3 separate regions of the Homo sapiens genome follow, and regions 1 and 2 are each linked to region 3. Evidence: fine-mapped expression QTL. A gene starts in region 3. Each other region holds a variant in brackets. All regions are shown on one strand. Distances are between the middles of the regions.

Region 1 (8,178 bases), 79 kb before region 3:
GGTGAGCACCACATCAAGGGATCACCCTGTGGGACAAAAGGATCTGAGGGGCAGCCCTTGAGTTCTAGATCTTTCCACTGAAACAGTCTACCTGAATGAGAAGGAACCAGAAATGTTAATTCTGGTAATATGACAAAACAAGGTTCTATAAGACCCCCAAAAGGTCGCACTAACTCTCCAGCTATGGATCCAAACCAAGAAGAAATCTCTGAATTGCCAGATAAAGAATTCAGAAGGTTGATTATTAAACTACTCAAGGAGGTACTAGAGAAAGGTGAAAATTAACTTAGAGAAATTTAAAAAACAATACAGGATATGGATGAAAAAGTCTCTAGATAAATAGATATCATAAAGAAAAAGACAATCGGCTGGGCGCAGTGGCTCACACCTGTAATCCCAGCACTTTGGGAGGCCAAGGCAAGGGGATCATCTGAGGTCAGGAGATAGAGACCAGCCTGACCAACATGGAGAAACCCTGTCTCTACTAAAAACACAAAATTAGCCGAGACCATTCTGGCCAACATGATGAAACCCCGTCTCTGCTAAAATACAAAAAAAAAAAAAAAAAAATTAGCCAGGCGTGGAGGTACGCGCCTGTAATCCCAGCTACTTGGAGGCTGAGGCAGGGGAATCACTGGAACCCGGGTGGTGGAGGTTGCAGTGAGCCAAGATTGTGCCACTGCACTCCAGCCTGGTGACAGAGCGAGACTCTGTCTCAAAAAAAATAAATAAAATAAAAACTGTTACTTAAAAGGTGAACCAAAATCTTTTACTATCTCTACTTCATAAAAGCATTGTTTAAAAAGAGAAAATAAAATTTTACTCTTGTATTATTGTAATATTTATTAATATTAAAGCGAATTTTGATAAAACCTAAACAATTTTTTTCTTGAAAATCCTTTTTAACAACCAAGCATTTTTAGAGTTAAGCAGCCTGTGAAAAAGAACGCAAAATAAATAAATTTTAAAAATGAAATAAAAAAACAAAAAGCCAAGCACATGTGCCCTAATGGGAGGTGCCCTGGAGACCCCGGCCTTCTCTCCCTCTTGCTTGCTGGAGATTTCCTTGGGATCTGTGGGGTGGCGAGCATCTTGCAAACCCCGGCACATTCGGCGTTGGAGGCCCTGTTTTGAGGCTGGGCAGGCCTCAGAGAGCACAGCCAAGGGCACCTTTCTGCCTTTTCCAGAGATGGCTCCGGGCTCCCTGTTGGTGGACTTACCTGTCTGCATCAAAAGAAGAGATGGCAGTGGCATAGTTGAGGTTGTAGGCGAGGACAGTGGTGTAGTGATTGAACCCAAAAAAGTCATAGGTGCCGTTGATCCTCCTCTTCTCACTCTCTGTAAATTCTGGCAGCCTGGGTGGAAGAAGCCATTGAGGGCAGGGCTTCAGGGAGAGCCATGCTTTGAGAAGAGAACGTCATAGGGCTGGGGCGGGGGAGCTCTCCGAACCCCAGGCACTTGGCAGTGAGTAGGGGAAACTGGCAGGGAAGGAGAAGAGGTCCTTCAGGCGGTGCAGGAAGCACTGCGGCTCCTCCAGCCAGACCATAAACCTGGCTTCCCTAGGTCTCTACAAGAGCCTCTGAAACCTGAAGGACCACACACACACGCACCCACGCGCGCGCGCGCACACACACACACACACACACACATGCATAAACAGTTTTTAATTTCCTTCAAACAACATATGCAAATTCTGATATTTAGCATCTATGACAGATTTCAAAATCAAGAGCATGCCTGAGGTACATATCTGAGACTCTTCCCCTATGTTTGTAAAGTTAGATCTTGTATAATTTTTTTTTTTTGTGGCTGAGTCTGGCTCTGTCACCTAGGCTGGAGTGCAGTGGCGCGATCTCAGCTCACTGCAACCTCCGCCTCCTGGGTTCAAGTGATTCTCCTGCCTCAGCCTCCCAAGTAGCTGGGACTACAAGCGCCTGCCACAACTCCTGGCTGATTTTTTATATTTTTGGTAGAGATGGGGTTTCACCATGTTGGCCAGGCTGGTCTTGAACTCCTGACCTCAAGTGATCCGCCCACCTCAGCCTCCTAAAGTGTTGGGATTACAGGCATGAGCCACCACACCCGGCCCTGTATCTTGTGTAATTTGTATTTCCGTTTTCTGCCCTTTCCAAGTTTCTCTGCTCCTCTTGGGGTTTGTTTAGGCATGCCTCTTTTCTCCAACTCTAATAATAATAATAATAATAATAATAATAATAATAGCTTCAAGATCTTCAAAGTAGCAGGGGAAATAATTTGCAAATTGAGTATTTGAGTTTGAATTTCTCAGTTCTCACGATTTCACTGAACTTTGTTTTCTTTCTTCCTTTTTTTTTTCCCAGACAGGGTCTCGCCCTGTCCTCCTGAGGACACTGCACGCCCCCTGAGGCTGGAGTGCAGTGGTGCAATCATAGCTCACTGCAACCTCAGTCTCCTGGGCTCAAGCAATCCTCTCACCTCAGCCTCCCAAGTAGTTGGGAATATAGGTGTGCGTCACCATGCCTAGATAATTTTTAAATTTTTTGTAAAGACAAAGTCTCACTATATTGCCCAGGCTGGTCTTGAACTCCTGGTCTCAAGCAATCCTCCTGCCTCAGCCTCCCAAAGTGCTGAGATTACTTGTGAGCCTGGGAACTTTGGCTTCTTAACCTGTAGATGGAGCATTTTCCAGGCACTCTGAGTGAAAAGCCTCTCCTGTAGAACCTGACTAATACACTTGTGTGCAGCATGTACAGGTGATCCTGAATGCATGCGCATGCCCACAGGGAGACCTGGGGCTTCTGGTTTAGGTGTGGCCCAGAGATGCCCTGCTGAGGCCTCTGACACTTTCATCTTGACCTTTCTGCTACCATTAACCTGAGGGATCAAGAACCTTCCTTCCCTGGGGTTTCTGAGATGATGGGAGAAAACCAAAGCACAGCCTCCTCCTGTCCCTGACGCTTCTGCTCAGAAGCCAGCAATGGCCTGTGGCACCAAAGCCAAGGCCCTGTGCTTGGCTTCCAGGCCCTCCACCATGTGGCCTCAGCCCCTTCACTGCTGCTGGGCTGGTCTCCCCACTCTCAGCTCTGGCACCCCCACTCATTCTTACCTCTAGGCCTGTCTTCACAACTCTGCCCCGTGGAAAGAATGACCTGCAATCCCCCACATTCTATCCCCTGTCAAGGCCCAGCTCAGCTGATGTCCTGCCTTGTCCATGAAATCTCCTGGGTCTACCCAGCCTACCCTGATCTCATCTTCTGAGTTTTCTTTGTACTGAAGAGCCTGGGGAATGGGATGGAGAACTGTCTTTCCAGCTGATCTGTCAGCAGCTTGAGGAGCCGAATGGAATCCTCTCCTTCCATGGACCCCTCCCCCTGGCCCTGGCTCGGGCAAATGGTAGGTGCTCGGCAAAGTTGTGCAGATGGGCCGGGCGCTCATCGGTTTTGCTGGAGATCACAGTTCGCAGATCAGACCTTTAGGCACAGCCTGCTCTGGGGAACTTACCCTAACTAGGCCAGGGTGTGCATTGTGAGGTGGGAGCTGGATTTTTTTTTTTTTTTTTTTTTTGAGACAAAGAGTCTTGCTCCATCGTCCAGGCTGGAGTGCAGTGGCATGATCTCGGCTCACTGCAACCTCTGCCTCCCGAGCTCAAGCAATTCTCTGGCCTCAGCCTCCCAAGTAGCTGGGATTACAGGCCCCCGCCACCGCACCCAGCTAATTTTTGTATTTTTAGTAGAGACAGGGTTTCGCCATGTTGGCCAGCCTGGTCTTGAACTCATGACTTCAAGTGATCCGCCCACCTTGGCCTCCCAAAGTGCTGGGATTACAGGTGTGAGCCACCGCACCCGGCCTGGGAGCTGGATTTTTAATCCTCAGCTGGACTATATGGGGGCGTCTAGGGGCAGGACTCAAAGACTATGTTGGGAATTCACACTTGATTCCCGCCAGCCTTGGAGCGGTGGGCATGTTCCCGTGGGCAGTGACTGCCGCTTCCTGCGCTTCCTCACACCACACCTCTCACCCCACCTGCATGATTCTCAAGCCCCCAGCATGCGCCCTGGGGGCCGACAGCTTGGCTGCAAATCTCAGCTCTATCTCTTAATAGCTGGGTGATCTTGCCCTAATCTTTGCGCCTCACTTTACTCGTATTTAAATAGAAATAAAGATACCAACAGAAGATGGGTAAACGTTGGCTGCTAATGTTGCTACTCCTTCCTTGACAAGAAGGGGCGGGCGGGTAAGGAAGGACGCTTTGGTGCAGACCATCGCCACCTGCTGGCCAAGTGATGCAAAGCACACGCCTGACTGTCAGCCACTGCCACCCACATTCACACGTGCGGTGATGAAATAGGATAGGATGAGCTGGGATTTGTCTGTGGAGTGGCATAGTGGGGTTGCTCAGAGGTGGATAGCCTTGGAACAGATTTCCTGGCTGTTCCACAATATAATAACCATAATAGCAAACCCCTCTGTCAAGCATATAGCAGTGCCAGGTGCTGGGCTAAGCTTTACATATA[T/C]GATCACATGTAACTTCCCAGCAAGCAAAGAAGCTCAGTCATGGTAACTTGCCCGAGACATGCCTCTGTGACCCCGACGCCCATGCCCTCACCACTGCGGGCACCAGGCCCTTACCGAGACTTGTTGAGGCCTGCAGCCAAGCTCCTGTCACGGATCCGCGTCTTCATCACCTCATTGTAATCTCCATTCTTGAAAATAGGATGTGCAAACCAGCCTCCCATGAACTGCGGGTAGGGTGGGGGAGACAGCCCAGGCGTTACAGGTGGGCACAGCAAGAGACAGCATCGTCCCCGCTCAGAAGTGCCTGGCCTCACAACCTCCCTCCTTTTCCTGGACCCCCAGGTTAAGCTCTCTTCCCTGTGGCTCCTGCCTGTTGCAGCTTCAGTGTCCACAGGTCTCCCAGCTGGGTCTGTGCTTGCTCAGTTGCTGTTGCACTGAGGACAGGGCCACCTCTTCATAGTTGTAGCTTGAGGTGACAGTAACTGACCTGGGCACTGGCCCTGGTGCTCAACAAATGCTTCCTGGCTGCCCTTGGATGGGTCCTGCAGAGGAGAAGGGAGAACCCACAAGCCTCCAGGCTCCCGGTTCTCTTTCTCACCACTGAGCGGCTGCACTTCCTCATCAAAGTGCCCAAGGAGCAAACAGAACTTTCTGGGGAGGGCTGAAATGCAAGGCTTTCCTGACTTTCCGGGCAAAGTATAACTCTTAATGGGCTTTCACAGCCCCAGAGTGGGGAACCGTTTGACCTATTTTCTCTAATGAGGCCTAGGCCATCCTTATCATGTGCGGGGATACGTGGCACCCAAACACTATGATGCTGGGGGTTTGAGAGCCTTCTGTAGTCTCTCCAAATCCTCTCCTCACCCACTGGCTGCTGCTGGGAATGTGGGGTGAGGGCAGCTTCCACTCATGGTCAGAGATGAGGCATGGAACACACATGCCCTGGTAAAGAGGCTTAAATGCACCCACTCCAAGGTAACACACTAGATATTTTCGTGGAAGCTGATTCTAATAAGAGATGCATCTGTCATAGTCCATGGCTGCAGTATCACAGTTCACCAGTAAGTGGCTCAATCTAATGATATGACAGCCTAACGTTTCCTGACGTTTGAAGTTTTGATTTCAGGAAAAAAGGAAATGTTGTTCTAAATCACCAGTTCTGTGAGTCTGAAATGAGGGATACATTAATTTTGTTTCAAAACTGTTTCCCCAGCTGGCTAGCAGACCAGAAAATTAAGCCCTTCGTTGCATTTATTAATTTGACTATCTTTGTCAAGTTCTCTTGTGAAGAGTTTGGCAAACCAAGGCCCATGGTGTTTCCCCCGAGAGAGTTATAGTGCCACAGTTGGCAGACTCTTCCACGGAGCCCAAAGTGGGAACCAATCCAGAGAGAAACCCTTGCCTTTCCTTCCTGATGCAAAATGTAGGAGAGAGCACCTTCTATCCCTTTCTAGGAGGAGCCAGAGGAGCTGTGCCGTGAACGAGGATCATTCTTTTCCTTCTCTCCTCTTGTCAGTCAGGGGTTCAGGTGGAAATAAAGGTAGGCCATGCTGGCACCTGCTTCCTTTTTTTTTTTTTTTGGAGATGGAGTCTCTCTCCATTGCTCAGGCTGTAGTGCAATGGTGATCTCAGCTTCTGGGTTCTCCTGCCTTAGCCTCCAGAGTAGTTGGAACTACAGGCATGTGCCACCACACCTCGGTAATTTTTATATTTTTAGTAGAGATGGGGTCTCACCATGTTGGCCAGGCTGGTCTAGAACTCCTGACCTCAGGTTATCAGCCTGCCTTAGCCTCCCAAAGTGCTGGGATTACAGGCGTGAGCCACCTTGCCCAGTCGGCTTCCTAGTAATGTCTCTACTTCCTTGGGTGAAATTCCATGACTGAAAGATGCTGTTCTTAAACTCATTGAGTTGGCAAATTAGGGGCACTAATGAGTTTCACAGAATCTAAAGCCCCCAATTTAAGAAATGCCTAGGCTGGAGCAAATCAAATTAGATGGTGACACCTAAAGGTGACGTGTGACACTGCAGCCCAGCTCTGTTAGCTACTATAGTCAAACCAGAGAGACTGAAGAAATGGAAATTTCTCTCTAGGAGTTAACTTCAAACCAATGTTACAGAAAGAATTACCTGTACAAATGATTTTTAAAAACTTAAAGACAACTTAACCCCACAGACTTTATCACTTTCATCACAGCAAACTTTTGAGGTGGGCAGGACATCTCCAGTTTGAAGTTGAGGAAACTAAGGTACGAAAAAGTTAGATGATTTTCCCAAGCTCACAAAATCAGGCAATAGCAAAACTAGGCTTAGATCCTAATAATTCTTCTTTTTGGGGGTTGGGGGTGGTCTCCCTCTGTCACCTGGAGTTTAATGGTGCCGAAATCATGGCTCACTGCAACCTTGACCTCCTGGACTCAAGCTCCCACCTTAGCCTCCTGAGCAGCTGGGACTATAGGTGTGTGTCACCATGCCCTAATAATTTTTTTTTCTTCACAGACAAGGTCTTTCTATGTTGCCCAGGCTAGTCTCAAACTCCTAGCCTCAAGAAATCCTCCTGCCTCAGACTTCCAAAGTGCTGGGATTATAGACATGAGCCACCACACCCTAAATCTTTGATTCACAATCTGTTTCCATTAGGCTGGAAGGAAAGATGGACAAGAGTAAGAACAAGCGCCCAGAGGAAAAACAGACCTGAACATATCTCCTGGCTGCCTCCACATCCTCCTGGTTAGAGGGATCTCTGGGTTCAGCCCAGTCACTGCTGATGGTGATGGAAATCACGCCACCTTGACTGGCGCGGTACACATCGTTGTACAGATGCCAGGCCTCAGCATGAGCCTTTATTAGATTGTGGCCAACAATGTAGGGGGCAGTGCCAGGCCTATTGGAGACTCCTGGAAACATACACATGGATGTCAACAGAGAATGGATAGAATGGATGTGACTGAGATTGTTAGTCCCTGCCTGCAGATGTCCCCTCTGTGTTTGGGAGAAGGGGTGTAGATTCTGACACTAGGAAAACTGGAATTCAAACCCTGGCTCTCCCTCTTATTACCTGGCTGTGTAACTTTGGGTGAGTAATTCAGCCTTTCAGTTTCCTCCTTGGTGAAATGGGCAGCAGAGAGTGCTTGTGAGAGGGAAATGAAACAGTGTATGAAACCCGCCCACAGCAGCACTGTGTCTGGAAGAGGGAAGGCCACTTGATAAATGTTGGCTTCTGTTCCCCTCCTCCAGAAGAGTGGCTCGTACGTCTCAGGCAAAATACCCATAATAGAGATACCTATCGCAGAATCTAAAGCCCCCAATTTAAGAAATGCTTAGGCTGGAGCAAATCAAATCAGATGGTGGCACCTAAAGGTGAAGTGTGACATTGCAGCCCAGCTCTGTTAGCTACTATAGTCAAACTAGAGAGACTAAAGAGATGGAATTTCTTTCTATTGAGTTAGCTTCAAACCAATGTTATATTCAGAAAGGACTATATGTACAAATGATTTTTTAAAACTTAAAAGACAACCCAGGCCAGGCAGGGTGGCTCACACCCATAATCCCAGCACTTTGGGAGGCTGAGGCAGGTGGATCACCTGAGGTCAGGAGTTTGAGACCAACTTGCCCAATATGGTGAAACCTGTCTCTACTAAAAATACAAAAAATTAGCCAGCTGTGGTGGCAGGCGCCTGTAATCC
Region 2 (8,178 bases), 51 kb before region 3:
GCCTACCAGAGTGCTGGGATTACAGGTGTGAGCCATCATGCTAGTTGCGCACAGTTGGGCGAACTGACAGATGAGAAAGCAGAACCTCGTGAGTCCCACTCAGTAAGAGACTCCCTACTTTCTTTCTGAGTCTTTGTTTCTCATCAATTGAATGGCAATAAACAACTTGGTGGCCCAAGAGTTGATGACAACAGTCCTATAAGATTATACATGTAAAAGAAACAGAGTATTCTACAAATATCAGTTATTGATAGTTCAATAGGCAACCTGACATTACCTTTTCTTGGAACTTGATGAACAACTCAGAAACTCATTAATATCAAACCCAATGGTGAGCACTTGGTCTTTATTTATGGCTGTAAGAGAAGAAATTGAATTAACTCTATGTAAATGCCAACTAAGAACATGCAAGTCTGAAATCAACAGTTTTCCTCGCTCATACGACACACCCAAACTCCAAGCAGTGGTTCCAAGCCCCTTTGGAAAATACCATGGGCTAACGACTTTAAAAGCTTAGAAGTGAATTCTACTTACTTATTACTTAAAAGTGGTTCTCAAACTTCAAGGTGAATCAAAATCATCTGTAGAGCTTGTTAAAACACAGGTTGCTGGTCCCACCCCAAGAGTGTCTGATGCAGTAGGTCTCAAGTAGGGCTCAAGAATATGCATTTCTAATGAGCTCCCAGGTGATGCTAATGTTGATGCTGCTGGTCTGGGGACCACAACTTTGGGAACAATTGATTTAGAAGAACTCAAAGATCAGAAAGGGGTGGAATATTTTTAAAATTGTGGTAAAATACGCATAAACAGAAAAGGTACAATTTTAACCACTTAGAGAGAGGTGGGATCTAAGAACAGAAATTGTTATGCCATCAAAGGTGAGTTCAGATAAGCATTATTAAATGGTATCTATGGATAAACTTCAGGGGCCCTGTGGAGCCAACCCATTGCTGGGATGGGGTCCAGGTGTGCTATGGTTTGGATGTGGTTTGTCCCTACAAAAACTCATGTTGAAATTTAATTGCCAGTGTAACATTATTGAGAGGTTATGGACTTTTAAGAGGCATTTGGGTCATGAGGGATCCGCCTTCAGGGATTAGTGCAGTCTCCAGGGAGTGAGTGAGTTCCCATTCTAGTGGGACTGGATTAGTTACCATACAGTGGTTGTTATAAAGTGAGGCTGCTTCTGGTGTTTTATCTGTTTGCAGGCACTTCCTTCCCCTTCCACTTCTCTGCCAGGTTAGGATGCAGCATGAGGCCCTCACCAGAAGCTGACCAGATGTGGCTGCCTGATCTTGAACTTCCCAGTCCCCAGAACCATGAGCTAAATAAACCTTTTTTCTCTATAAATTACGCAGTCTAGAGTATTCTATTATAGCAACACAAGACAGACTAAGACACAGTGGTAGAAAGAACACTACTGACTTCTCCCATACTCTGGCCTATGGACAAGAGTGACAGACAGACAAGAGTGAATATCAGGGCCCTCAGGCACATTCCTCTCTGCCCCTTCCTCCCTTCTTGCAGAGTCTCCAGTGACTGCCAGCCTCAATGCTATCATAGACCCCACCTTTCCCCTGACTTGATTGGACCAGAAGCAGCCTCCTGATCCATGGCCAACAATCAGATTCACTTTCAAGAATTTGAACTAAGAGACACTAGGAAGATGGCCCTTGAGCTGTGAGTCCTACACTTGAAAGTTCTTAGCATCTTGGTCAGGTACCCACCAGGGCCATGTGCAAACTGAGATAATGGGGACATGGAACAAGGGTAAGTGGAGAGGGCTGGCTGGAGAGAGACGGGCAGAGGAAAGCCCTGCCAAGAGGAGCAGAGATGAGAGACCTTGGAGGGAGAGGTAATAAAAGGAGGCAAAGATGATTTTCCATGCTTACAACTCACAGCTGAGGCCTAACTATCTTTATGTCCATAAGAGGCATCCTTGTGTCGAACCTCTCCTCTTTCTTGGGTCAATGGGGGATGGTTGCAAGGGACCATCAGTAGGAAGGCATAGTACACTAACCCAGTCTGGGGTGGGCTTTTATACTAGTCTTCCTCCCATGCTCCTCCTCCCATTGGAACCCCGGACTTTCAAGACTGCTACCTAGCACACCAGTGCACCAGATGTCACTCAAAACCTCTTCAGCAATGGCCCACTCACCTTCAAAAAGGCTGAAGAGCAGACTGGCTGGGTTCTTCATGGTGGAGGGGCAGTCTGGGAGTTTTAGGTTGAAGATGAAAACTTTCACTTTTGGCTCAATGGTCTGAAAAAGAGAAGGACCAGCAAGTGAACTGAAGCCTCCTGGAAAGCATCTTGATAACAGGGACAGAGTTTCAAGATGAGAAGCTGTGGCACTTACTCTGGCTTTGGAAATGACCTCTAAGTATCTCAGTTAATTAAAGGAGTCAACTCTAGACTCTGAAGGAGAAAGATCTACAATTTTCAATAACATAGTCTACCCTCCCCACCAACCCCCACCTTCACCTCTTCTTTCATCACAGGCTTACAGGGCACCTCTTAGAGCCAGGCACGGTGTTAGGATCAGGAACAAGGCCACTGCTCACATCCAGAGCCTGTGCTACTTAAGAAGCTTAGTTAAGAGGCCACCATCTATGGATGTCTGGGATTTGCTTCAAAATAATCCAGTTTGGTTAGCTGGGTGTGGTGGTGCATGCCTGTAGTTCCAGCTACTTGGGAGGCTGAGCCAGGAGGATCGCTTGAGCCCAGGAGTTTAAGGCTGCAGTGAGCTATGATTGCACCACTGCACTCCAGCCTGGGTGACAGAGCAAGATCCTGTCTCTAAAAAAAATTTTTTTTAATTAAAAATCTAGTTTGGGAGATAGAAGTTATAGGTTAGGTGAAAGAAGATTAGCTATGAGCCAATAATAGCTCTTGCAGCTGGAGATGGCTTCGTAGGGGTTCATCATTCTTTTTACTTTTGGATGTTAGAAATTTTCCAAAACAAAAAGTTACAGCAGCCCAGCGGGTGTGGTGGCTCACGCCTATAATCCCAGCACTTTGGGAAGTTGAGGCGGGCGGATCACCTGAGGTCAGGAGTTTGAGACCAGCCTGATCAACATGGTGAAACCCTGTCTTTATCAAAAATACAAAAATTAGCTGGGCTTGGTGGTGCACGCCTGTAATATCAGCTACTTGGGAGGCTGAGACAGGAGAATCGCTCGAACTCAAGAGGCAGAGGTTGCAGTGAACCGCTGCACTTCAGTCTGGGCAACAAGAGCCAGGCTCCATCT[CA/C]AAAAAAAAAAAAAAAAGAAAAAGAAAAGTTATATTAGCTGTTATCATTAAAATGGAAGCAAATGTAATTTCCTCTTCTTATTTCTAGCCATTTCAGTATCAAGGAAAACGTCTCAGGGCTGACATGCTGTTTGACTTCACTTTAAATTACCTTTTTTGCGGGGCTTGGAGTTTGGTCATTTTACTCACAGTAACTTTTTCCTCCTCTGAGCAACTAAAAGCTACCAAAAGATACCAATAGTAACCACTTTAAAAGGAGCCAGGCATAGTCTTTACTTTCTCATAGCCACCTGTGACTTTCTTTACAGATGGGGAGTCAGAAGCTCGAGAGGCCGAGCGGGTTGCCCATGACTGCGCAGTTAGTGGAGCTGTGACTCCACACAGTCCTCATCCCTCCCTGTGCTGGGTCAATGCAGTGGGGACAAATGACCCAGGGTGGCGTGCTTAGGGAAGCAAGGGTTTTCTCCTTCCTGAAAGACGGATATGCCATGAGGCAGCCGGTGATGTCCCAGGGCTGGAGAGCTAGAGGAGCCTCGGAGGCCCCCAGCCTGTCTTCTGCCAAGCGGAGAACTCCCTGGGAGCACAGCTTTTTCTGATAAGTGGATGGGGGACCTCCTCGTGTGCCTCCTGCAGAACCGAGAACCCTGGAGTGTGCCGCAGCTCTTCATTTCTGGGCTTGAGGCTGTTCTCAGGCCCTCAGACAGCTGTGTGCCGTTGGGGAGTGGCCGCTGAGGGCCCCTGAGGCTCAGAGAGGGCTGTGCAGGTGCTCCGGGGAGAGGGTGGGAATGGGGGCAGGTGCCTGCTCCTCCCTGCCCTGCTTTCGCCCTCTTCCCTCGCAGCCCACAGGAAGAGGCCCCTTCAAGGGGAGGGTGGGGTTCCAGGACAGGGAGGGAGGGGACACTGGGAAGGTGGGCAGCACGATTCAGGCTCCTGTGGACACAACTCAGCCCCTGTTCTCAGGGCAGGCTCAGCTGTTCTCCCTGTCCTGGGTGTGGTAACTGTGCATGGGAAATGCTACCAGGCATGAGACCACAATCCCAGGAAGGAACAGTGTGCTCTCCAGCTCAGGGGTTGTCAGCTGTCATTTCCGAATCTTTGAGGCTGCCTCTGAGGGGCCAACCCTACCCAAGGAAGTAAAAGGAATAGATAACCATTGCAGAACATTTATAAATGGCTGCTAAGTTTGTCCAGGGAGAGTTTTACTATTTGGCTGGCCAGCTACAGACTGAAGTTTCAGTGCTTTACCCAGACACTGGTAGAAGTGTCTTGAAAATGTGGTAGCCAGGTGCAGTGGCTCATGCCTGTAATCTCAGCACTTTAGGAGGTCGAGGGGGGTGGTGGATCACTTGAGGCCAGGAGTTCGAGACCAGCCTAGCCAACATGGTGAAACACTGTATCTGCTACAAATACAAAAAAAAAAAAAAAAAGCTAGGCATGGTGGCGGGCACCTGTAGTCCCAGCTACTTGGGAGGCTGAGGCAGGAGAATCGCTTGAACCCCAGAGGTGCAGGTTGCAGTGAGCCGAGATCATGCCACGGGGCACTCCAGCCTGGGTGACAGAGCGAGACTCCATCTTAAAAAAAAAATGTTGTGATGGAAAAAGGGAAGAGACTGAAAATCACATCCTCAAGTACCAGCCATGCAGTGCCTCTGCTGCCTGTCAGAGGCACGCCACCTCCGCACAACAGAGATGGTTTTAAAATGGCAGCTTTGTCTGAACCCATTAGCCTAGCAACAAGCTCTGGTTTAATTCCATGAGGAGGACAAAAGGCAGCTTTAGTCATCACAGGCACAAGCAGACCTCGAAGACCCTAGAGTGTTACGTAAGGCCCAGAAACCTTGTCAGCCAGCCCGCAAGCACAGGCCCTGGGCAGCAAGCAAGTTTAGGTTCAGGTGAGGCATTCACAAAAACAACTGAAACTGATCATATGTGATTTAAAAAATACCACCCTCATTATCATGTTCCAAACCCTTGGACTTCTTTTTCTTTTTCTTTATTTTTTTTTGAGACAAGTCTCTCTCTGTCCCCTGGGCTGGAGTGCAGTGGCGCCATCTCGGCTCACTGCAACCTCCACCTCCCGGGTTCAAGCGATTGTTGTGCCTCAGCCTCCCAAGGAGCTGGGATTACAGGTTCGTGCCACTATACTTGGTTAATTTTTGTATTTTTAGTAGAGACGGGGTTTCGCCATGTTGGGCAGGCTGGTCTTGAACTCCTGGCCTCAAGTGATCCGCCTGCCTCAACCTCCCAAAGTGCTGGGATTACAGATGTGAGACTTATTTTTCTTTTGAAAAGACAGTGTGGTGTCTTAGAATGAGAAAGCCCTAGTTCAAATCCCAACCCTGGAGCTCACCACCTTGGTTAAATTGTTTAAACCTTAGGGTGTGTTTTGAGAGGTTGAGATGATGTGAGAATGAAGTGCCTCCCAGGTGTCTGGGATAAGCAAGCACTAAAATAGCTGTTACTCAGATGTCTTTGTGGCTGCATCTGTCACCTTTGATTAGATCAGTGGTCCCCAACATTCTTGGCACCAGGGACCGGTTTCGTGGAAGACAATTTTTCCACAGACTTGGGGGAGGTAGGGGGGATGATGGGGATGATTTGGGGATGAAATTGTTCCACCTCAGATTATCAGGCATTTGATTCTCATAAGGAGCACGCAACCTGGATCCCTCGCATGCGCAGTTCACAATAGGGTTTGTGCTCCTATCTAATATGGTCGCTGATCTGACAGGAGGTGGAACTCAGGTGGTAATGCTTGCTCGCCTGCCACTCACCTCCTGCTGTGCAGCCAGGTTCCTAACAGGCCATGGACCAGTACTGGTGCTCCGCCTGGGGGCTGGGGACCCCTAAATTAGATCATCTTATTATTTGTAGATAACAAAAGCAGCAGTGTCTACTACACAGACAGCTAGAAACACACAGACATTGGGATAGGACTGGTGCTAATTTGTCCATTTCAAGCACTCTGCCTCAGGTAAAATGGAGGGTCCATGTAGCTGAAGCTCAGTTTGACATTCCTGAGCTTGGCCTTTTATTTTTATTTTTATTTTTGAGATGGAGTCTCGCTCTGTCACCAGGCTGGAGTGCAGTGGCGAAATCTTGGCTCGCTGCAACCTCCGCCTCCCAGGTTCAAGTGATTCTCCTGCCTCCACCTCCCAAGTAGCTGAGACTACAGGTGCGTGCCACCACACCCATCTAATTTTTGTATTTTTAGTAGAGATGGGTTTTTGCCATGTTGGCCAGGATGGTCTTAATCTCTTGATCTCATGATCCACCCACCTCGGCCTCCCAAAGTGCTGGGATTACAGGCATGAGCCACTGTGCCTAGCCAAACTTGGCCTTTAAAGGGATAATTCCTCAGGTAAACCATCCTCCTTGGTGACGGAGATGGTGGGATTCAAAACCACAGGTGAGTGTAGGGGGCTGCTCTGCCTCCCTCATGGGAGGCACAGGCTGAAAGCAGCGGGGAGTGGTTTTGTGCCCAAACCTGAAGAGGCAGGGGGTCCAATGTGGGTGCATACCAGTGGCCAGACATCCTTGGAAAGGCCCACAGGAAGGCAGCTCTCCAGGGTTATAGGAATACTGCCAGCACTCGGAAGGTGCAGGAGAAAACGTGGGCACCATCAGATAGACCTTGTCACAGGAGAATAGTTGGGACTCCAGGGAATGAAGCAAGTAAGTCACACAGCAGTGACCAAGCCTAAGAGAGAAACCTGGTAGTTGGATAGGAGGCTCCTAACACACTTTCTCTAATGAGCCCGCATCATTAGACTTGAGAAAAGCAGTACTGGGTACAGGAGGGAGTACTGAGCTTACTGGAAGGTCCAGACAGCTGGGATCTGATTTAGTAGACCTGGGTGTGAAATGTTTGTTTTTTTAAAAATGTGGTAAAATAGACATAAAGAAGAAATTTACAGGCCAGGTGTGGTGGCTCACGCCTGTAATCCCAACACTTTGGGAGGCCAAGGTGGGCGGATCACTTTAGGTCAGGAGTTTGAGACCAACGTGACCAACATGGTGAATCCTTGCCTCTACCAAAAATACAAAAATTAGCCAGGCGTGTTTGTGTGTTCCTGTCATCTCAGCTACTGGAGAGGCTGAGGCAGGAGAATCGCTTGAACCCGGGAGGTGGAGGCTGCAGTGAGCCAAGATCACGCCACTGCACCCCAGCCTGGGCAACCGAGGAAGACTCCATCTCAAAAAAAAAAATTACCATCATAACCATTAAATGTATAGTTCAGTGGTGTTAAGTGGACGCTTATCGTTATGGAACCATCACCCCCATTGATGAGTTGCCTTTTTAAAACTCAGAATGAACCCCAGAATCTCAATTCTCGGCAGATTTCTACACAAGCAAGCAGAGGATCTATGTAAATATTCACCTTAACAAGCTAACCCTTGTATCCCTTCTAGGAAAGACTGCCTAACATCCGATGTTCTCTAGGGATGCTTGCAATGGAAATCTCCCCAGACACAACTCAGCCGGTCTCTGCTGTTGATGGAAGTTCAGTTTATGCAGTAGCCAAAGCATTAAATGTCTAATCTGCTCTCTGAAACCTTCGCTGCATTCATCATTAATGTGGAAAAGGGCTCAAATTACCTGCAATTTACTCAGCTTCTGCCGCAGACTTGCCTCATTTTGGCATTCATAAGACAAATCAAGAGAGAGGAAATCGACCGTGTCCTGAAAATAGTAGTTAAATAGGGTCATTAGAACCTAAGCACTGTCAAGACTAACAGCCTCTCAGAAGTACGCTTTTTTGTTTCTCCCCTTATCACTAAACCAAATATTCCAAAGCAGGATTTTCCAAAGGAAAAGATGGAGATGGAATGAGAAAGTGTGTGTGTGTGTGTGTGTGTGTGTAGGGGGCGGGGGGTGCCTGTGCCTGTATGTTGTTGGGAATGCATCACCTATGTGCTCATCCATG
Region 3 (8,177 bases):
CAGTATCAAAGCGCCTCTTCTCAGTGGGAAATAACTGTGAAAGCTGACCTTCTGCTACACAAGTGAACACTTACAGTCCAAGAAGAGCTGGCTTCCCGGATTTCAACCCCTATTCAAAGTAAAGAAGATTAATATGCCCATACCTATAGAACTCCTCTTGAATGGTGGTGGAAAGTTGCTGGTTAAATTGTTCCAGGTCCACAAAACTCACAACCAATGTGTTTCTCTCAGGACGAATCAGTTCCTCTGCTAATTGCAAGTATTTAATTTCTCCATCGCTGCTCTGAAACCTGCAGGTACATTCGAGTCAACTAGATTAAGGACACAGGCAGTACAAAGAACCTGAATGATAATTCAGAACATTGGTTAAAGTCCAACAACTAGGCTCAGACAGGCCCATGTTTGGCAGTTCTGTAACTTGGGGCAAGTTACTCCTCCCTTCTGATATGGTTTGGCTGTGTCCCCACCCAAATCTCGACTTGAATTTCCACATGTTGTGGGAGGCACCTGGTGGGAGTTAATTGAAGCATGGGGACAAGTCTTTCCCCTGCTGTTCTCTGATAGTAAGTCTCACGAGATCTGATGGTTTTAAAAAGAGGAGTTCCTCTGCACAAGCTCTCTTTGCCTGATGCCATCCACGTAAGACATCAGTGACTTGCTCCTCCTTGCCTTCCACCATGATTGTGAGGTTTAACTGCTAACTAACAAAAAAACCCAACAACTAACTCTTCTTTTACTACTGTCATGTATAATTAAGATTGGAAAATGTTAAATCAAGAAATTCAGTCTCAAACCCAATGATTCCATTTCTGTAGGGAATTTGCAAACTAACAAATTAGTCAGGGATTTAAGAAGCAGAACAGAAATAAGAATACATGGAAATGAGGTGTTTCACAGCCCAAGACTTCGGGAAAATTGAAACAGGCACACTAAATAAAGCTGCTGGTATTTTTGCTTCTAAAGCCCAAGCAGGATATCATACAAATTTATTTCTGTTCTTTCAAACATAATATGCAGATTCGCCTTAAGAAAAAATCAATTTCTCCTCCATATACAGCATGTTCTGACTCCTTAAAATATTTGTTAAACAACTACGTGCAAAGCCCTATAACAGAGGTACCTGAGGCTGAAAATGGCAGTGTTGTTCCTGCCCTAGGGTTAACTAACACTTTGTCTGCGTCTAGGGAGTTAGACATGTAAGCAATGAAGACAGACAAGAAAGATGTTCCTGTTAATGAGAAGAACAAGAAATGTGCTAGGGGAATAGAAACTAATTCTGCCTAAAAAAACAACTACAAGTTATACATATAAAAGGTGGCGTTGGAATTCAGCTTCTGAAAGAGTTAAAAATTTCAAATAAAAACAGGTGGTGAAGTGACTGACTAGATGATTCCAAGAATGTGATTAAGTCAGAGAAGGTAGGGGAGAAGTGTGGATGATGACTGGGGTGTTTTTGTAAGACAAACAGGAAAGAGGAGTGATGAAGAATTTGAACTTTATTCCACAAGCAATGGTGAATTAAAGTTTATTTTGTGACAGGGAGTTGGCATTTCTTTAAACAAAGCACAGAGATTATTTGTCTCATCATTATCATCTAGCTGCAAAGTCAAGGCACTTAGATTATTTGTTGAAATGAAACGTTTATTGAAAAACCTTTGTAATGTGATGTGGTGGGTAGGTGGGGTTGAGGATGGAATTTGAATTCCAGACTAAGTAGCTAGGAGGTAAATGTGTTACACTGCCAGAGATAATGAAAAACAAACAGCACCCTGGGAGCCTAAGGAAGAAAGGATTAGTGCCTCTCAAAAAGGTGTACAAGGTTTCACAAAGGTGTGAGTTTTTAGCTGGGCTTTGAAGGAGGAACTATCAGGCAGACAATAACATTGCCATAGGTAGTGAAATGGAAATTAAATTATGGTTTTAAGTATACCAAAATTTCCTAAGAAGGCAGCATTATTCACAATAGCCAAAAGGTGGAATGAACCTCATTATTCACAATAGACAAAAGGTGGAATGAACCTGTGTCCACTGAATGGATAAGCAAAATGCAGTATATATACAGGTTGAGCAGCCCTCATCTGAAAATTTAAAATATGAAATGGTCCAAAATCTGAAACTTTTTGAGTGCTGACATGATTTTCACTGGAGCATTTCAAATTAGGGATGCAATTGGTTAAGTATAATGTAAACATTCCAAATCTGAAAAAAAAATCCAAGATCCCAAACTCTTCTGGTCCCAAGCGTTTCAGAAAAGGGATACTCAATGTGTACAGACAATGTTATTTAGCCTTAAAAAGTAAGGAAATTCTGACACATGCTACCTCGCAGAGGAACCTTGTAGACATTATGTTACACAAGCCAGACACAAAAGGACAAATACTACACGCTTCCACTTATATGAGGTACCTAGAGTGGTCAAACTCATAATGAAAGGAAGCAGAGTGGTGGGTGACGGTGGCTGAGGGAGAGGGTAACGGAGGAGAGTTCGTGTTTAATGGGCACAGAATGTCAGTTTGGAAGATGAAAAGAGTTTGGAGCCGGACACGGTGGCTCACGCCTGTAATCACTTTGGGAAGCCCAGGCGGGGGGATCACCTGAGGTCGGGAGTTCAAGACCAGCCTGACCAACATGGAGAAACCCCATCTCTACTAAAATACCAAATTAGCCGGGCGTGGTGGCGCATGCCTGTAATTCCAGCTAGTAGGGAGGCTGAGGCAGGAGAATAGCTTGAACCCGGGAGACGGAGGTTGCGGTGAGCTGAGATGGTGACACTGCACTCCGGCCTGGGCAACAAGGGCTAAATTACGCCTCAAAAAAAAAAAAGTTTGGAGATGGGAGAGTGGTGACGGCTGCACAACGAGGTGAATGCACTTAGTGCCACTGGACTCTACACTTAAAAATGGCTAAAATGGTCAACTTTGTTATGTATATTTTACTAAAAAAGAACTTCAAAAGCCATTCCAAACTGCTGACCCTTCATCCTGGAGGCCGTGGTGTATCTGCTCCAGGAAAAATAACCGGTGGGTGAGGCAAGCCAGGGAGGAGGTTGGGGTTATGAAGCTAGGAGCCCAGAGGCACAGAAAAAAAGAAGAGTAGAGAAAGGAAAGGAAGGCCAGAGGGAAAGGGGAGCAAGGGACCCAGAAGAAGGGATATGGTGAGCTACTCTCTGCAGGGCAGGGCTCCGCCCCCCAGCAGCTTTCAAACCACAGTTGACGCAGAAACTTTCATCAGCACAAGAGGCGAGGGTGGCCCGTGCCCTGCGAACCCCCAGCACCATGCTCCCGGCTGCGTGGCCCAGCAGGGCACCGACGAGATTCAATGGCACTTCGGCCTCCCACTCGACCTGGCCGCACCCAGCGGCCCAGTTACTATACTCAGCGAGCCCAGGTTTCCGCGCCGGTCACCGAGGGCTGTGCAAATACCAGGCTCGCGGGGTGGTGAGCATCAAGTGACAGAAGCAAAGCGCTGAGCACTGGGCACGAGCGTCTTAGGGCTCGAGATGGGTTTTACTCCAGAAAAACCCAGCCTGTCCCAGGCTCCTCGCGGCCGCCGGGCTCGGAGCCTAAAGTTGGGGGGCGGGCGGGGAGGCGCTTCCCGGACGCGCGACCCCCAGGTTCCGGAACACCCGCCGCCCACACGGCACCGCCTGGCCCAGACGCCGCAGGCTCCGGAGGCGGGCGAGGCCCGGGGCGCTCGCCGACTTACTCCTCCAAGAAGTCCAGGAACAGTTTCTGGCACTTCTCGGCCACCTCGTCGCGGACCTCCAGGTGCTGGCTGCCGGCGCCCGGCTCCGCTGCCGCCGCGAGGTCCATATTTGCTTAGTGCCGAGGATTCGCCTGCGCCACGCTCGACCGCCACAAGTCGCTTTTTTCCAGACGCTGCAGCTTTGCGCGCGCCGCCGCCGCTTCCGCCCCGCCCCCTCTTCCGACCTGCACGGCCGGAACCAATCGTGACACAGGAGCTGGAGATTTCGCGCCAAACCTGACCAATGAACGGCGCCTCTCCAAGAGCCCCAGCCCACGGAAAGGGATTTCGCGCCAAATGCAAAGCCCTTCTGGAGAAAGCCCATCTGCCTTTGCGCCTGCGCAGTGTAGCCGTGGCCCGCGGGTATTTTTGGCTGCTGGAACAAGTTCGAATCTGAGGGTTTTGTCCGAGTGGTTTTTCAAATGTTCTTTAAATCATTCCACTGATATTAATTGAACGATCGGAGTAAGACTCTATGGAAGAGAAAAATGAGTAAGCCGCTTCTGCTGTCTAGTTAGAGGAAATAATGGAAACCACAGTATAAAACCCTGTAAAAGAGTCAAAGAGATGTCTAAACCTTGCATGGGTAAGGTGGCACAATTATTGTGGTGGTGCTGACCGAGGAAAATCAGCGAAATATTTGACATTGGCCGGGCGCGGTGGCTCACAACCTGTAATCCTAGCACTTTGGGAGGCCGAGGCGTGTGGATCACCTGAGGTCAGGAGTTCGAGACCACCCTGGCCAACATGCAGAAACCCCATCTCCCCTAAAAATACAAAAATTAGTCGGGCGTGGTGGTGCACGCCTGTAATCCCAGCTACTCGGGTGGCCGAGGCAGGAGAATCGCTTGAACCTGGGAGGAGGAGGTTGCAGTGGGCCGAGATCGTGTCACTGCACTCCAGCCTGGGCAACACAGTGTGACTCCGTCTCAAAAAAAAAAAAAAAAAAAAGAAAGAAAAAGAAAAAGAAAGAAATATTTGACACTTTGATTAATCTTTTTTTCTTTTTCTTTTCTTTTTTTTTTCAGATGAAGTCTCACCCAGTCGCTCAGGCTCGAGAGCAGTGGCGCGATCTCGGGTCACTGCAACCTCCAGCTCCCGGGTCCAGGGGATTCTCCTGCCTCAGCCTCCTGAATAGCTGGGATTGTAGGCGCCCGCTACCATGCCCAGCCAATTTTTGTATTTTTAGTAGAGACAGGGTTTTCGCCATGTTGGCCAGGCTGCTCTCAAACTCCTGACCTCAGGTGATCCGTCTGCCTCGACCTCCCAAAGCGCTGGGATTACGGCCGTGAGCCACAGCGCCCGGCCTTAATACCCTTCTTAAAATGCACTATTGGCTTGAGTTATCCTTATGTTTTTTTCCCCCATCTTTCCCTAACCATTTCACTTGGTTTTTCTGCCATCTCTTTGGCCATTCCTGATTAGCATCCTTTGTAGGCGCCTCTCCTTCAGTGAGTCTTTTAAATGTTCTGGTTCCAGAGCCTTCTTTTCCCGTAAAGTCGCTCTCTTGGGCGACCCTTTACACTCCCTTGGCGTTAATTAACATCTGGGTACTGATGATATCTATATGTGTATTTCACCAACCAGTACCTTTTTTTGGCCTCCAAGACATTAAGAGAAACGGGGACCACTTCCATTTTTTGAGGCTTGTTGCATATTAAAAATATTTTTTCTTTCTTTTCTTTTTTTGAGACGAGGTCTTACTATGTTGTGCAGGCTGACCTTGAACACCTGGTCTCCAGCAATCTGCCTGCATCCGCCTCCCGAGTAGCTGGGATTTCCTGCCACCACCAAATCCAACTTATTGAAAAATTTTTTCTTTTTCTTTTTTTTCTTTCTTTTCTTTCTTTCTTTCTTTCTTTTTTTTTTGGAGACAGAGTCTCGCTCTGTCATTAGGCTGGAGTGCAGTGGCAGGATCTCGGATCACTGCAGCCTCTGCCTCCCAGGTTCAAGCAATTCTTCTGCCTCAGCCTCCTGAGTAGCTGGGACTACAGGCGCACACCGCCACGCCCGGCTGATTTTTTTTGTTTTTGTTTTTTTGTTTTTGTATGTTAGTATAGACGGGGTTTCACCATGTTGCCCAGGCTGGTCTCAAACTCCTGAGCTCAGGCAATTCGCCCACCTCGGCCTCCCAAAGTGCTAGGATTACAGGCGTGAGCTACCGCGCCCGGCCTGAAAAGATTTTAAAATGCCAAACAGAGTGGACAGAAGCTCAAGTAATTATTTTAACATACGTACAAATACACTATTCACAAGATATTTACAGAGTTTAACAAAAAAGCTCAATGCTGGCGTGTTGCAGTGTATCTGTAATCGTATGTATTACCTCATTTGAAAATGAACACTCGGCCGGGCACGGTGGCTCACGCCTGTAATCCCAGCACCTTGGGAGGCCGAGATGAGCGGATCACGAGGTCAGGAGATCAAGACCATCCTGGTTAACACGGCGAAACCCCATCTCTACTAAAAATACAAAAAAATTAGCCAGGCATGGTGGGGGGCGCCTGTAGTCCCAGCTACTCGGAAAGCTGAGGCAGGAGAATGGCCTGAACTTGGGAGGCGGAGCTTGTAGTGAGCCGAGATCGTGCCACTGCACTCCAGCCTGGGCGACAGAGTGAGACTCCTTCTCAAAAAAAAAAAAAAAAAAAAAAAAAAAACCCGAAAATGAACACTCAGCCGGGCGCGGTGGCTCATGCCTGTAATCCTAGAACTTTGGGAGGCCAAGGTGGGTGGATCACTTGAGGTCAGGAGCTCCAGACCAGCCTGGCCAATATGGTGAAACCCCATCTCTACTAAAAATACAGAAATTAGCCGGGCGTGGTGGTCGGTGCCTGTAGTCCCAGCTACTCAGGAGGCTGAGGCAGAGAATTGCTTGAACCCAGGAGGCAGAGGTTGCAGTGAGCCGAGATCGCACCACTGCACTCCAACCTTGGCGACAGAGCAAGACTCTGTCTCAAAAAAAGTAGAAAAGAAAAGAAAATGAACACTTGAGGCTCTGTGTCCTACAGCCCTTTACCAGCTCTAGAGTCTGCCTGCCTACCGGACATCACCACTTGTACATATTTTAGGAAGCTTGAACTCAACAGTGCTTCCTGGATATTCACAACCCGATTGAGCTAACCTGATTCTATTCCATCCTCTCAAAAGGCCTCACTCTTTTCTTTCTCATTTTTCTTCTTCTCCCTTCTCTTCCTCTTCTATCCTCAGGATAGATTTCTCAGAACTAAAGTCCCATGTACAGAAGGAAAAAAACAAAAATGATAGTGCAGAGCTCCGGGCTGATTTTCAGCTATGCTCATTGAGAAACTCAAGGCTTCCTCTTCTCAGCTCTCCATATCTCACAGGTGTTCCCTTCCTCCTTCAGACATGTATCTCTGAATCAGAATAGTAGATGATGTCTGTAAGTGAGGTTTGTAGGGATAACTTCCACAACAGGAGGAGGGTATGAATTATGAAATATCTCTGTCACACCCCAGAAAGTTGTATGCTATGTGTGTGCACTGGTGCCCAGGCCTGCTTGCTATCCTTAGAAAGTCCTGTTCACAAGATTGGCCTTTGGCTGGCATTGGGAACTTGACTGGTAAATAATTCTCTACATCGATATAACACTATCCCTTGATAATGATGGCTCATTGTACCTAAACTGTACAATGTGATTTATGCTGAATACCTGGAAGTCTAAAATTTTTTTTTTTTTTTTTTTAAAGACAGGGTCTTGCTGTGTCACTCAGGCGGGAGTGCAGTGACACAATCACGGCTCATTGCAGCCTCGACTTCTTGGGATCAAGCGATCCTCCTGCCTCAGCCTTCCAAGTAGGTACATGCCACCACGCCTGGCTAATTTTTGTATTTTTTGTAGAGACGAGGTTTGGCTGTGTTGCCCAGGCTGGCCTCGAACTCCTGGGCTCAAGCGATCCTCTTGCCTTGGCCTCCCAAAGTGCTGGGATCACAGGTGTGAGCCACCACACTGGGGCCTTTTTTTTTTTTTTTTTTGAGACAGGGTCTTGCTGTGTCACCCAGGCTGGAGTGCAGTGACACAATCATGGCTCACTGCAGCCATGACCTCCTGGGCTCAAGTGATCCTCCCACGTCAGCCTCCCACGATGTGCACCACCATGCCTGGCTAATTTTTATATTTTTTGAAGAGACAAGATTTCCTCATGTCACCCAGGTCAGTCTTGAACTCCTGGGTTTGGGCAATCCTCCCAAAGTACTGGGATTACAGGTGTGAGACACCATGCCCAGCCATCCATGATTCTTTTTAAAAAATTATTTTAGAATAGCTTTGGATTTACCAAAAGTTGCAAAAGATAGTACAGAATTTTCAAATACACCTTGCCTATTTTCCTTTACTGTGAATATCTTACACTCTTATAATACATTTATTACAACTCAGGAACCAACTTTAGTATGTTAGTATTAACTAATATTGC

Which allele goes with the higher level. Alleles are on the strand shown, and positions count from the first base shown. SD is a standard deviation of normalised expression in the study named. Not every link is listed here.
For the expression in tibial nerve of the gene that starts at base 3,890 in region 3, allele T in region 1 goes with a lower level than allele C (moderate effect, 0.47 SD a copy in GTEx).

Evidence for each region. PIP is the estimated chance that this variant, and not a neighbour inherited with it, causes the effect.
Region 1: its variant is fine-mapped to the expression of MCM6 in tibial nerve (GTEx, PIP above 0.99).
Region 2: its variant is fine-mapped to the expression of MCM6 in whole blood (INTERVAL, PIP above 0.99).

Annotation. Positions count from the first base shown.
Region 1 is chr2:135,793,421-135,801,598 of GRCh38, forward strand. LCT (lactase) reads right to left here. Exons shown (of 17, transcript NM_002299.4): 12 at 7,187-7,389; 13 at 4,609-4,718; 14 at 1,221-1,355. Among named protein-coding and RNA genes, the nearest start is that of LCT-AS1, 23 kb to the right of the region's middle. RefSeq lists enhancers at 3,989-4,510, 4,511-5,034. The variant T/C (reference allele first, on the strand shown) is at 4,494.
Region 2 is chr2:135,821,743-135,829,920 of GRCh38, forward strand. It overlaps LCT (lactase), which reads right to left. Exons shown (of 17, transcript NM_002299.4): 3 at 7,851-7,934; 4 at 2,159-2,261; 5 at 278-356. It overlaps LCT-AS1 (LCT antisense RNA 1), which reads left to right. Exons shown (of 2, transcript NR_045486.1): 2 at 1-1,345. Among named protein-coding and RNA genes, the nearest start is that of LCT-AS1, 5.6 kb to the left of the region's middle. The variant CA/C (reference allele first, on the strand shown) is at 3,250.
Region 3 is chr2:135,872,554-135,880,730 of GRCh38, forward strand. It overlaps MCM6 (minichromosome maintenance complex component 6), which reads right to left and starts at 3,890. Exons shown (of 17, transcript NM_005915.6): 1 at 3,706-3,890; 2 at 144-290. The coding sequence starts at 3,812. RefSeq lists enhancers at 2,980-3,515, 3,285-3,414, 4,105-4,164 and a silencer at 3,485-3,644.